Linked DNA regions of Homo sapiens. The protein of the gene in region 1 purifies or fractionates together with the protein of each later gene. This does not show direct contact. Each region holds a gene or a part of one and is shown in the gene's direction. Other genes may lie near its edges.

Region 1 (3,500 bases):
GGGAGTAAAAAGGTGGTGGATAGATCTCTCCTCCAAGTTTTCTTCCCTCTCTCCTTCCTCAACTCTCTGATGATGTCACAACTGCCAGCTATGTGTTTGGGTTGATGGATGTATATGTGATTGCATATATATGTGAATGTGTGTGTGTGTGTACATATGTAGTATGCCTTAGGTGGGGTGCAGTGGCTCACGCCTGTAATCCCAGCACTTTGGGAGGCTGAGGTGGGCAGATCACCTGAGGTCAGGAGTTGAGACCAGCCTGGCTAACATGGCAAAACCTCATCTCTACTAAAAATACAAAAATTAGCCGGGTGTGGTGGCACACACCTGTAACCCCAGCTACTCGGGAGGCTGAGGCAGGAGAATTGCTTGAACCCGGGAGATGGAGGTTGCAGTGAGCCGAGATCGCACCACTGCACTCCAGTATGGGCAACAAGAACGAGACTGTCTCAAAAAAAAAAAAAAAAAAAAAAAAAGTATGCCTTAAAACTTTTCATATTTTACATAATAATTAGTAATACATACTTCACTTGGGCCTTGTAGATCTGTAAAACTTCTCCTTGCAAGACAAAGCCACTGTTGATTGCAATGGAAATAAAAATTGAGGATTTTTTTTTTTTTTTTTTTTTTTACTTCTCCCAAGATGACACATTTTAAGCTAAAGAAAGCAGCCTCCAAGAATTTTATATTCCTAATATTTTGGGCAAGCCCGAGTTTCTAGGTTGTTTTTACCTGCCCAGTTGCTGTGGTGGAAGTTGTGCTAGAAAATTCAGCCTCCTTGGTCTATGTCTGTGAACTTACTAAATTCTTGTTGTTCTAGAATTCTAGATTTGGACCTGGTGGTTAGAGATGAAGATGGGAATATTTTGGATCCAGAATTAACTAGCACGATTAGTCTCTTCAGAGCTCATGAAATAGCTTCTAAACAAGTGGAGGAAAGGTTACAAGAGGAAAAAGTAAGTTTGACTCTGTCATATGCCATTCACGTTTTCTCAGTAATAAGTTTTCAACATTAGTAAAGTATCAGTCAAGCCCAAAATTGTCACTAAGAAAGAACCTGAAAAGGAGTAGCTGCAGAGTTTGTGTCCTACAGTCATGAGTGGAATGGAGCCTGGTGGCACAGGATGTCACCCATGACATGAAAGGGGGTCGGACAGCATTGTGTTTCATCGTAGGAGACAGGATCCTAATGATGTTGATTTTGTGTTCTCATCTGTCAAATGAGACACAAGACTTGATTCTGCATTTCCTCTCGGATAATGGTAGGCAGGTCATGTATTCCAAGCTCATTGAGGGCAGAGAGTACATGTCTTATTGTCTTTTCGTCTTCTATGATCTTTAATGGTATCATGTATGCATTAGCCTGTTCTCGCCTTACTATAAAGAAGTGCCTGAGACTGGGTAATTTATAAAGAAAAGAGGTTTAATTGGTTCATGGTTCTGCAGACTGTATAGGAAGGATAGTGGCTTCTGCTTCTGGGGAGGCCTCAGGAATCTTATAATTATGGTGGAAGGCGAAGTGGGAGCCAACACTTCACATGGCTAGAGCAGGAGGAAGAGAGAGGGTGTGCGGGGGGGTGCTACACGCTACACTTTTAAACGACGAGATCTTGTGAGAGCTCACCATCATGAGGACAGCACTGAGAGGATGGTGCTAAACCATTCATGAAAAATCCACCCCATGATCCAGTCACCTCCCACCAGTATATATATATACACACACACACAGTAGATACTCAGAAATTGACTAATTGAATCATCTGTTAATTCAACAAGTACTTACTGAGCATCTACTGTGTACCAAATGTTGAAGACATAATGATACATGAGACAGATGTCCTTGGAGGGTTTAGTCTAATGAGGGAACAAAAAATTAAATAACTACACATATATAATCATTATTTTGATTTATTGGATGGACACCTGAAAGTTTTGTATCTCTGAAAATACTCAGCACAGCAGTTGCACAGGATACAATTTTTTGTCTGTTGTGTGAATGCATGATTTAAGAATGTGCAGGGGAGATAAGAAAGTGACTGCACCAAGGCCTTTGCTGGGTTATGCCAATGAGTTATTACAATTTTCTATTCTGTAGGGAATAAAGAAAGCAAGTGTCAGTGATGAGTGTTGCTGGGGTTGACTTTCTGTTTCCTTCCATACACAGTCTCAAAAGCAGAACATAGATATTAACAGACAAGCCAAGTTTGCTGCAACCCCTTCTCTGGCCTTGTTTGTGAACCTCAAAAATGTGGTTTGTAAAATAGGAGAAGATGCTGAAGTCCTCATGTCTCTATATGACCCTGTGGAGTCCAAATTCATCAGGTGGGTGACATTTCTTGGCTGCCGTCTTTCCTCTTTGGTTAGTGTTAGGAACTTGGGATCAGAACCACTGAAGCGTCCCATTCATGCTGAGAGGCCTTGGATGAATGGCTGCTGGACACGAGCAAGCAGCCGAGTCAAGAGCTGTCTTAGACAGTGTGATGGCAGCCAGGTTGGGCTCTGGGTCAGGGTGAACCTTCTTGCGTGTAGATTGCTATTTGCTCGTAGAGTTATAGCAGTTGCAGGTACACTCTGGCCGTATCTTAAGAGTGTAGCTGAAGATTGAAGTAATACTTTGTTTCCTAAGTTGTCTTCGTAAGATTTTATATATCCTGGTCCCTCAAATATCACTATTTCCATTTTTCAAAATTTGGTTTCTATGAATGCCATTTCTGTGAGTTTTGTCTTGTTTTTTCTGCAAGATGATTGGCTGGAATACATCATTTAGAATGGTGCCTGCCACATACAGACTGTCAGTTAATATTTGTTAAATGAAAACACTGTAAGTCTATTTTTTCCTGCTTAGCCTTCAGTATAACTTTCTCTTTGCCCAGATGGAAACAATGTGGTTCAACTATGTATGAATTATGTGTGTGTCTGTGTATATGTTAAAACTCTAGTATCTTCACTTGTATTATTCAAAATTTGAAAACTTAGTGTATGAATGATACAGAAAAATACGAGTGGATTTTATTCTCACTTCTGATAAAGACTTTGTTTCCTCTTGACATAGGATGCAGTTTTTATTTTACAATGTATTTGGTTTGTCATAGGTTTTGAAATAAACATGCATTGTGCTGAATTTTATAGTATTGTCATTCTAAATGAACAAATAGGCTCTTAAAAAAAAAACCAACTTAGAAATACCATTTGCAAGTAGTTCTATTACAGTGACAACCCAAGACATTGCACATTAAAACTTGGCAAGGTTTTTGTGCTGTGGATGTTAATTGATGAGTAGCTGTATGTGATACTTTTGATATTTATAAACTCAATAGTTGTCTGTATAGTGCACGTACATGGTATTAATTATGAAGCAATGTGGATGTACATTTGGTACCCTGTTATTTGGAAAATTAACTTGCTTTTATTTCTCCATTTTTCAAGTGAGAACTACCTGGTTCGCTGGTCCAGTTCAGGATTACCTAAAGACATAGACAGATTACATAATTTGCGAGCCG
Region 2 (3,500 bases), on another chromosome or scaffold:
ATTGAGTACTAAATGACTGACACCATTGCTTGGATTGTTTTTAAGTTCTGTATCCACTGTAGAAATGCCCACTGTAAAATCGTAAGTCCCAGCAGGAGTAAAATGGTCTGAGCCCTCATTGAAATGTGTCTGATACAACCGAAATATAAAGGGACTCAATGCTATGTGTGTTTATTATTGTAGGAGTCTTATAAAAGCTATGGAGTTGCTTTCCATGTTGCAGATAATGTATATTAGAAAAAAAGGAAATGATGAAAGCAGTATATTAAACTGAAAAACTTTTATATTTAACTTTGGTGTAGAAATTTCACCTGTCTAATTTTTTAGGCTTTATAATGAAAATATACTTGGGAGAAATGTGTCTTTAACATTAGAGGAAAATGGAGAACAAGAAAGTGTAATTATATGGATAGTTCACTTAAGTGTAAATCAAAATTTGATTGTTACTAAAGGATGGATAAATTATGCTTTAGAAGGGCCAACATGGATAGTACGTTGGATTCTAGATTAAATTGTTATTAAAGTCTAATTTGAACTACAGAAACAGACATCGTCTGGCTATTATTTTAAAAAATATTTTATTTCCTTTCCATACTTTATTTCCACATTAAGATGTTCCTAACTCCTATTCATTTGGAATATAACCTATACCAGAACAATTTTGTTATATAACAAGTTTATAGTCCCATTTAACGCTTTACTTAAACAGCGTTTATTTTAGTATTTTAGTTCATCCCTGTTCTGTTGTACTTTTAACAATGAAATTAAATATATCCTTTGTGACTTGTTTAGTTTTTAATTAGTCTCACTCGGGGTTACCTTCAGGAGACCATTACACTGGCAGCTCTTGTTGCCTTGTTGCCTTTTGACATCTGCTTTCATTAAAGTCAGTGCATTTTCTTGCCTGTGTCTTCCTGCAAGGACACTGATGTTAATCATGCCAAATTGGATCCATTTCTGAGGTCTGCTGCAGGAAGCAAAATACTGAAATTATCATAAAAGTAAACCATTATTCTTCAGTTGTTAGAGCACATCATCAGAACATAAAATTGAAAACAGAATTTCTATAGTCCAATAGCTTATGACTTTTGTGCCGTATGTATTTCAAACATTTCTTGCACAGACCTAACCAGCAGACAGAATAATGACTCTTTAAAAACGAAAGAATAAGTCCTTGGCCTGTGGCCAGAAGTAGCGAAAGTGTGTTTCTGTGCCATCCTGCCCTGCATGGCTCAGGTTTCTGGAGTCAGCTCTACTTTAAGTGATTGCTGGCATCATATTCTGGTTAGCCCTAAATGGAGCTTTCCTATTAAAATACATGACTGCTGAGGTCTAAAGTACATTGAATATTCTTATTGATCAACTTGAAGAAAAAATGTTAGTATAGAAATGTCATCTATTATGGAGTTGGCCAATTGAATATTGACTATGTTTTAATGTGGTGTGAGGTTTATTTTCTCCCATTTTTTCCACAGGTATAATAAAGTGGTTTAAAAAGATAAATAAAAAAAATTATTTCTATGGTAGGCATGCTTTTGACTAGTTGTCCCTAATTATTGCAAGCTCATTCTTTGTGTTCAAAGGTTTAATTTTATATATTCCAGACGATTCAGAGAGATTAGCCACAGCTTATTTAAACAAAGAAGACACACACAAAACAAAGCGATAGTTTTTTTTTGTTTTTGTTTTTTTTTCAGAAAGAATTCAGTTGCTTACTTTTCTTAAAAACATCTTTCCCATTTCATTGAGGCAGATTTGGAAGTCAAACCAGAAACTTCAGGCTCTACTACGATGGCAAGCACTTTGTTGGGGAGAAACGCTTTGAGTCCATCCACGATCTGGTGACTGATGGCTTGATTACTCTCTATATTGAAACCAAGGCAGCAGAATACATTGCCAAGATGACGATAAACCCAATTTATGAGCACGTAGGATACACAACCTTAAACAGAGAGCCAGCATACAAAAAACATATGCCAGTCCTGAAAGAGACACATGATGAGAGAGATTCTACAGGCCAGGATGGGGTGTCAGAGAAAAGGGTAAGCTACTATGAAACCACACTTTATCTTTTTCTGTTTGGGGTTCTTTTAAGAAAGCCATTATTGCCAGAAGAGATTGATTTATCCACAGTGCTTTGGAAAGTATATTCATTTTTCTTAATGTCTAGTTTCTGTGATGCTGAGCTTTGCATATAACTAATTCTTGTTCTATTAAAATATGTTAGGTAAATTTTTATATTCCTGGTTGTTTTCTGTTTTATCAGTTTCACAATTTTAAAACTATGTTGGAAAAATGGCCCCTAATAAAAAATAGTTCAGGGGATTGGTCAGAAGCATAACTCCTGGTCAAGAAAAGATAGCTACTATTACGTAAGTAATTGAGGGGGTTGCATTATCTCTCAAAATTACTTTTTTGTTTTCCTTAAAGATAATTTACTTTATAAATAGTTGTGTTCTTAGCAAGATTTTATGTGTGTGTGTATATTATGTGTGTGTGTATGTATACACACACATTTTGGGAGTCAGTCATTCTTGAATAGGAGGAGGATTTATCTCTTTATAATCTGTTAAGAAGTAATTGAATGAGTAAGATTCACTTTTACTTTTCCTTAATTATAAAAGACAATTAATTCTAAAAGACAATTTAAGTTTTTTAGCTGTCATATTTTAGTTGTGATATATTTCAGGTTAACATAAAAGTTTTAATTTCTTGGCATTAAGATTATTTTACTTTTGAAAATTGCCACCAGCCTCCTCCTCACCCCCAAGAAAAAAGTAAGAGATTTTCCTGATGTTTTATAGTGTGTGACATTTAGTTGGGGGCATTTTAGGTATTGTAATTGGAACTGTGTCAATTCATTTTTATGTTTTTAAGAATCTTCAATTGCTAAACCAAAGAAATGCAATAGGTCTTGAGCTCGGATTCTATGCAAGATTTGTGTGCAAGTTGTAATACCTAATTTGTCTGTGCTTTTGATTGTCTTATTTGTAAAATTGTAATAATGGTCAAATTGCTGTGAGGAGTGAGTGAGATAGCAAGCGTAAAATGCTCCATCAGCACTTGGCACATGTAGACACTCAATGTAGTTTGGTGGTAATGTTATTATATAGCAGCCATCTGACCTCAAGGCAGCATCCTCAAATAACTTCCCATTACCTTAGAGTATTTGGGTACAGAATGGAAATAAGAAAGTTTGTGTCCAGCTCAAATTTTAGTTTTTGGCAGATCTTACATTGGCATTTTGTTGCTACGGAGAAAACAACATTTAAAAGGATAAGCTGTAGAAAATGTATAAAAATTGTTTTTTTATATATTCATATTGTTAGGAACCACAAATCTTGTTTGGAAGTAGCCAGAACTTAAAATCCTTAATACCTGCTGTATTTAATATTCTTTTCATGGTCTAGTTCCCATTTTCTGACTATTGGTTGATTTTCCATTTATGGCATTTTTTAGTAATGCTTGTATTTGAATAATACTGACATTATATTCTTTGC
Region 3 (3,500 bases), on another chromosome or scaffold:
AATGAATGGGTTCCTAGGCAGAAATTGTGATGTAAAAAAATCAGTGAGAAACCAGCAGTAGACACCCAGGATATATTAAAGACAGAGACCACAGATGGGTAATTTGGTTTTAGCTCAGGTAGCCCTTTCTCTTAAGGATAGTACAGTGTCTGTAAGGGCTTGATGGCGAAACATACCAAATCCAAGTTAATGAGAGTAATATCAAAGATTTGTACAGTACTTTATATTTTAAAAGCACTCTCACATTCATACATTAATGCAATTGATTCTCAGTGGAATTTTTTCAAATTCTAGTTGTGTCTAATTGAATGATGGTTAAAATGTCTGGGCCATTGGCCAGGCATTAGGAAGTGTTTTAGTTTTAATACTTCGTGAGTTGTGAGACTGTGTGGTCAGGATCAGGAGCTACTTGTTAGGATATTGGTTATGCTAATAATAAGTAAGCAGTGATCCTTACAACTAATTCCCCCTTTTCCCTCCAACTCCAGGAAAATCCTTCCCTGGAACACAGAATTTCCACTTGGAGGTTGGCCTCATTATTCTCTCTGTAGTGTTCGCAGTATGTCTTTTAGCCTGCCTGCTGGGAGTTGCTCTCCGAAAATTTAAAAGGCGCAACCAAGAACGCCTCAATCCCCGAGACGTGGAGTATGGCACTATCGAAGGGCTCATCACCACCAATGTTGGAGACAGCACTTTAGCAGTAAGTCATGACCCCACAGGAAATCCCAAGCATAAGGAAGGTGTCTGGAGACACGTTCTTATTTCGAGCATGAAACGCTAACCAGTAATGAGTGACTGAACAGTGTACACACATGCTGTTGGTTACTTATGTCCTAAACAAGCACATGCTGGCACCTGTGTAGTCTTCCCATATCAGAACAGCCATTTTAGATAGACATTTAAATAAGGGATGGGATTTATTTTAGTAGTGTTGGTAGTTAGTTACTTTTCTCTGAGGGGTAAAGCAAAAGAGACAGAGAATGGTTGCCTACAGTTTTGGAGGGTTGGAATTTGTGGTCTTCAGTTACTCTATTTTTAGCCATAAAAGTGCTCCTTTAAAAAGGCACCTTTTGCTGAATATTAAATATTAATTTCCTTTCTAGATTATTTCAGCATCCTGTAATTTAAGGCTTAAAAACTTGACATCCAAAAAAGCAGCTTTTAAATTTTGTATGCTCCTGTGGTGCCCTCTTGTGGAGTGCAGTCATTTGGTTAAACCGGTGTTGTCCAATAGAAACATGTGCATCACATGTAATTTAAAATTTTCAAGTAGCCACCTTAAAAACAAACACATGAAAAAACCCAAAAAGTTTCGTAAAAGTAGATTTAATTTTAACAGATATTCAACCAAATACATACCATCTTTGTCATTTCAACGTATAATCGATTAAAAAATTATTAATGTAAATTTTACATTCTTTTTGCTTTTGAAGTAAATTTTCAAAATCTTGTGTGTATTTTACACCTATAGCATATATCAATTCACACCAGCCACAGTTTACTTGCTCATGGCAATGTGTGGCTAGTGATTAACCCGCTGGACTGCACAGTGTTAGAAACTATTGTATTTATACATTAAAAAATTATTCTTTTGCATATTTTTAAATGATAAAATCACATTAAAAAATGACTATCTCCTTCTATTTACCTTTTAAAATTGCTTACCAAGTGTTCATTTTAAAGACGCTTTGAACTTTAAGTGGGGAAAGGGTATCACTTGCTCTAAATAGAAGGTTATCATAAAGTGCAAAAGAAAAAATAATAACATTCTGCATGGATATTATGCTGAGTCTGATGCCTACTCTGAAAAATTTGAGATTTGTGGGTGTTAAGTGAGTGCAAGAGACATGCCAATACCAATTTGAGACTCCTTGTCACAATCCGATTAATTGAAAGACAATCAAAGTAATAACTTTCTAATGTGATTCAGTTTTACTTAATGCCATTGCCCATGTGTATTTGAAATCATTTTGCAGTAAGTCTTGTTCTGCTAGACAGCAAGCTTCAAAGTGTCTGATAGTTCTGCAGTTACACTTGCCCTGCAGCTCCCCTTATGCTGGAGAAGACTTCCCCTCACCAGTGACCATCTGGGTAGCACAGATGCTACACCTGGACAATTGCAGGACCCACCTGTGGCAGGTTGTCACAGACATTTGGTAGTGCCTGATATGGGCTGGGAAACATCCCATTCTACTGCCTGCCCCATCCATCACTGGGCCACTTTTTGGTATGTAAAAGGGGGAAGTAACCTTCTGTAGCTTCCATTTACCTACTGTTTAAACTGTGGTACAGTGGAACTGGGGAAAGAGAATGCAGTATAAGGACATTTCATTTCAAAAAGTAGAGAAATACAATTTTTTTTGTTAGATATATACTTAGAAGTCTATTTCAAGCTTTAAGGAAAATTAAATGAGTTTATTGAGTTAGTAGCAAGAAGATGTGAGGATGAATCCTGACAAAGCTTTAGCAAAGCAAGATTCTAAAATAGGTTAGTTAGAACTTCATTCCTCAGAGCTGCTAACATAACTAATTACCAAGGGCAATAATAGGAATATCTGGTATAAATTACTGTTTAAATGGCTTTTAGAATTTTGAGAGAGGAATGGAGCATATGCCAAAATAGTCCTTTAAACTCAACCATGTCATGTGACAGTGTATCATGATATAATAACACAGTAAAGAACACTATTTAAAACAAGTTGTCATTATTGGTCTACATACTTGCTTATTTAAGCAATATGCTCATTTGTATGTTTCAACAAAGCATGCCCTTACTAAACAGCACGTCTACATTGAAAAACAAGCCTTGGCCATGCATGGTGGCTCATGCCTGCAGTCCCAGCACTTTGGGAGCCCAAGGGGGAAGATCACTTGAGACCAGGGGTTAGAGACCAGCCTGGGCAATATAGTGAAACTCTGTCTTGAACTAAAGAAAAGAAAAGAACAAAAAGAAGGCTTGGCATCTGAGAGTTGGGATATACGTTTGTTAGTCTTGGGTTGATTTTTTATTTTTCTTTCCTTAGGTCTGTGAACAGGGTTTAGAAGCAGGATCATACATTATGGAAAAAATAACACATTAGTTTAATTTTCAGAATTATTCTTCTCGAAAAAGAATGAATGAATAAGGAGCAAAAAGAACCGCAAGAGAGAAAATGGTTAGGGAGATATGAAACTCTGCTTCATCTACACTCATTTTCTTGTTGATTATCCCTTTTGTGGTTTTTAAGGGTTCTAAATTTCTTCCGTTGGATGCTCAGCTTTTGGTAATTTTGCCGATCAACAGTACTTCACAGTGGTGCTCAGAAGAAGTGAAAGAAGATGAAATTCACACAAATCAATGTATTGCTTTAGTAGGCCAGCCAAAATGTTTGGGAAAGGATGAGCTTTGGGGAATATTAAGTCAATATTACTGCAACTCTACCTTTATCACCCATCGGCACAATATTGTTTATTACAGATAATCTATGCCTGATACCTGCTTCTTGGCTTATGCTGAGAGT
Region 4 (3,500 bases), on another chromosome or scaffold:
CATGGGATAAATTATCACACTAGTATGTTACTTAGACTCTCCTTAGGGTGAGAGAATGGCCACAGCTCCCTAAGCCACCTGTCACAGCTGGGTACCCTCTGCCTGGCTGGGTGGGGAGGAATTACAGCAAGAAGCCTTGGGTTGCTAAGTTACAGTCCAGGGCCTGTGGTTCTACATTTCCAGGGCCACCACACCTGCTCTGCCCTTGACTAATAAAAACTCACTGCTCTACAGTCTACTCTGCTTATCTGCCATTGAGTGTTCCTCCAAGTCTGATGACAGATGAGCACGGTACTAAGAACAAGACCTTAGTGAGAGGCAGGTTCAAATCCTGGTGGCCCTTCTTGAGCTTTAAGACCTTAAGCAAGGTACTTAACTCCACTAAAACTTGGTTTTCTCATGTTAAAAGAAAATGGGGATAATATTGGTACTGCATTGGAGGGTGAGGCTTAAATGAAATAGGTCAGGAAAAAGGCTTAAGACAGCGCCTCTCGCATAGTAGGTGCTCAGTAAAGTAAGATGGTGAGACCATTCATCTTTATCCCCTACCCAGAGGCCAACATCCTTTTTTTCTTAGTTAACCTGGACAAGTCCTTTTGTTTTCTCTGGCTTCCCATGTCTGCACTGGTACATACTCCAGCACCTCTAAGAGAATCAGATCTTTCACTCTGCCAGTGGTGACTGCCATTGGTACAAGCTTATGCTACAAATTTATCTGTTTTCTCCATTCTGAAAAGGCTAAGAGAAGGCCCCTTCTTTGCTGTGTAGTTGCTCCTCAGCCCTGAGCTAAGCCTTAGGAAGGGACTGGGGACCTGGTCTGCTGTATTGCCACACCCAGTGATGAAACACACCCCGGGGTCCTTTGACAGTGGAGGTTTGTGGCAGGAATCATGGCACATCCTGGAGTGGCATCTGGAGTTGCCACAGTTGTGCTGGGTCCCAGAGCTTCCAAGAGAGTCACACAGTAGCCATTGTAAGGAACTGGAGATGCTGTCCAAATTTGCTCTGTTCAGGGGCTTCTTTCTCGGGGGACCTACCTCCTCTCTGCTGGCCTGCAGGGATGGCCATCTCCCTATGTCCTCTACTGGTGGCTGCTTTAGACCCAGACTCCATCCTTAGTCCATTTAGCTGTGGCCAAGAGACCTGGACTCGTTTCTTGCCACTCCCACACCACAAATGGTGCACTTTGTGTGGGAAGGAATGGGTTGGGGCAACTTGTCTCAAAAGGGAGCTTAGAGTCTGGCGGACTTCTCAGATTGTCCCAGAGCTTAGGCTTATGCATCATCTTAGCAAAAGGTAGGAACAGAATTTATTTAGCCTTTACTGATACTTATGGGGAGGGTTATTCTCAATTGAATTAGTTGTTTAACCTGGGCTAGATAGAAATGCCTTGCTGAGTATCGCAAAATTGTGAAATGTTAGAAGAACCTCAGAGCAGTTCCCCTCAGTATTGTGCACACGCAAGAATCACCTGGAAGCTTTATTAAGACACAAGTTCCTGGGTCCTCATCTCAGAGAGATTCTGGTTCTGCAGGTCTGAAGTGGGGCCCAGGATTCTGCATTTCTCAGATCCCAGGTGATACTGCTACAACAGGTCCACGGATCCACTGAGTCCTGCTTTGGAAGACACCATGGCCAGCCCTATCCCCGCTGTGGAGTAGTCCACATGGGTTGTTTTTGTTTTTTGCTAGACCACTTCCAGGCAGGGGCTCACTGCCCTACAAAGTAGCTGATTCCTCCATGCTCAAACAGCTCTAGTCTTTAGGAAAGTCTTCCTCCAACTGACCATGCTGAGCTCCACCTCCCCATGACTTCTTTTTGCAGTTCTTACTCTAGGTCCCTGAGCAGCTGGCACAGCTGTGCTGGGCAGGACAGAATGGGAATCATATGTGCCCATAGTCCACACTTGTGCCTAGGGCTTGGGTTGCACGTGTCACCATCATGCATGTGTGTCCAGTCAGGTAGAAGGGGTTGCATCCACTCCTCAGGAGCAGCCTCACTCTTGTGCAGCAACTCAGGTATTTGAAGACACCATGGGTGCAGGGGCTTCTTTTCTCCAGTAAAGTGGCCCTACTCCTTCTAGCATCCTACACAGTATAGGGGTTCTCAGTCCTTCCTCATCCTGGCTGCCCCAAGGTGAGTGTCCCAGAAAGACTCACATAGGGTGGGGTTGTATTAATGACTAATTGTACAGACTCTAATTCCTCACGAAAATGCATAACCTGAACCTAATCATGAGAAAACATCAGACATTGAGGAATATACTAGAAAATAGCTGGCCCTGACTCTTAAAAATTGTCAAGATCATAAGTTGAAGATAGACTGAGAAGCTACCCCAGATCGGAAGGGACTAGAGAGCGGTGATAACTGGATACCATGCTTCATCCTGGACTGGATTCTGGACCAGAAAATAGAAACCATATGTTAATAATAATATCATTGTCATTATAGTATCAATATTCATTTCGTTAATTTTTGTGGTGTGAGAGAATGTTTTCATTCTTAGAAAATACATGCTAAAGTATTGAGTGCTAAAGGGGCCTGATTTCTTCAACTTATTTACAAATGATTCAGAAAAGAGAGAGAATTTGTATACAGTTGCCCTCCTCAGGGAGACTTGTTCCGGGATCCCCCACAGATACCAGAATCCAAGGATGCTCAAGTGCCTGTTATAAAATGGTGTCATTATTTGCATATAACCTACACAATCCTCCTGTATACTTTAAGTCATCTCTAAATTCTTTATAATACCTAATACAATGTAAATGCTATGTAAATAGTTGTTATACTATATTGTTTTTAAATTGATACTTTTTTTGTATTTTTAAGTTTTTTTTGAATATTTTTGATCCACAGTTGGTTGAAGTCACATATGCAGAACCTGCAGATATAGAGGGCTGACTGCATATAGAGAGAATGATTAAACAAAGATGTCAAATTAGCAGTTGGTGAATCTGGGTAAGAGTGTAGGAGAGTTCTTTGTCCTATACATGCAACTTTTTTTGTAAATTTAAAATTATTTCCAGATAAAAAGAAGGAGATCGCAGACCCTGTAGCCAGCCTACCTGGGTTAGTCTTATCATTGCTTCCTCTGTAAACTTGGCTTTCTAACCTTTCTGAGCTTTGATTTTTACCATCTATAAAATAAAGATTATCATTGCAAAGTGAAGAATCTGGCACCTAGTGATTGGCCAGTAGATCTTAGCTATGATAATATCATTATTATTAGGAAAGGGAGGAGTTGAGGGTGACATGGTGGTAATGAGACCAAAGGAAAACTCAGCCTAATTCTGTCACCTCCTTCTGCTTGCTGATGTGGGATCTCAGGGTCCCTGGGTATCTGGCAGGGACCTGGCTGCCATAAAGCGTCACCCTGCAGAAGGCTTTGCAAGTAGTCACCTGAGCCCATAGGGCTCTACTGTTGAAACCCAGGTCTCCTGGCAGCTTTATCTCCTGCCTTCCCTGGCACTTCTGTGCCTGCCCCACAGCCTGGGCTCCCC

What was found. Proteins that work in one complex are often made in the same cells at the same time.
Region 2: the proteins of DOCK1 (region 1) and CHN1 purify together in Homo sapiens (affinity purification with mass spectrometry, with the first as the bait; one large-scale study listed by BioGRID). This does not show direct contact.
Region 3: the proteins of DOCK1 (region 1) and ACVR1 purify together in Homo sapiens (co-immunoprecipitation; one large-scale study listed by IntAct). This does not show direct contact.
Region 4: the proteins of DOCK1 (region 1) and POMGNT2 purify together in Homo sapiens (co-immunoprecipitation; one large-scale study listed by IntAct). This does not show direct contact.

What each region holds. Positions count from the first base shown.
Region 1 is NC_000010.11:126,995,928-126,999,427, forward strand, and holds part of DOCK1 (dedicator of cytokinesis protein 1), read left to right. Parts: intron 1-820; coding exon 821-956; intron 957-2,164; coding exon 2,165-2,322; intron 2,323-3,426; coding exon 3,427-3,500. UniProt on the Homo sapiens protein: Involved in cytoskeletal rearrangements required for phagocytosis of apoptotic cells and cell motility. Along with DOCK1, mediates CRK/CRKL regulation of epithelial and endothelial cell spreading and migration on type IV collagen.
Region 2 is NC_000002.12:174,876,382-174,879,881, reverse strand, and holds part of CHN1 (N-chimaerin), read left to right. Parts: intron 1-1,753; coding exon 1,754-2,042; intron 2,043-3,500. UniProt on the Homo sapiens protein: GTPase-activating protein for p21-rac and a phorbol ester receptor. Involved in the assembly of neuronal locomotor circuits as a direct effector of EPHA4 in axon guidance.
Region 3 is NC_000002.12:157,775,331-157,778,830, reverse strand, and holds part of ACVR1 (activin receptor type-1 precursor), read left to right. Parts: intron 1-488; coding exon 489-700; intron 701-3,500. UniProt on the Homo sapiens protein: Bone morphogenetic protein (BMP) type I receptor that is involved in a wide variety of biological processes, including bone, heart, cartilage, nervous, and reproductive system development and regulation.
Region 4 is NC_000003.12:43,099,580-43,103,079, reverse strand, and holds part of POMGNT2 (protein O-linked-mannose beta-1,4-N-acetylglucosaminyltransferase 2), read left to right. Parts: intron 1-3,500. UniProt on the Homo sapiens protein: O-linked mannose beta-1,4-N-acetylglucosaminyltransferase that transfers UDP-N-acetyl-D-glucosamine to the 4-position of the mannose to generate N-acetyl-D-glucosamine-beta-1,4-O-D-mannosylprotein.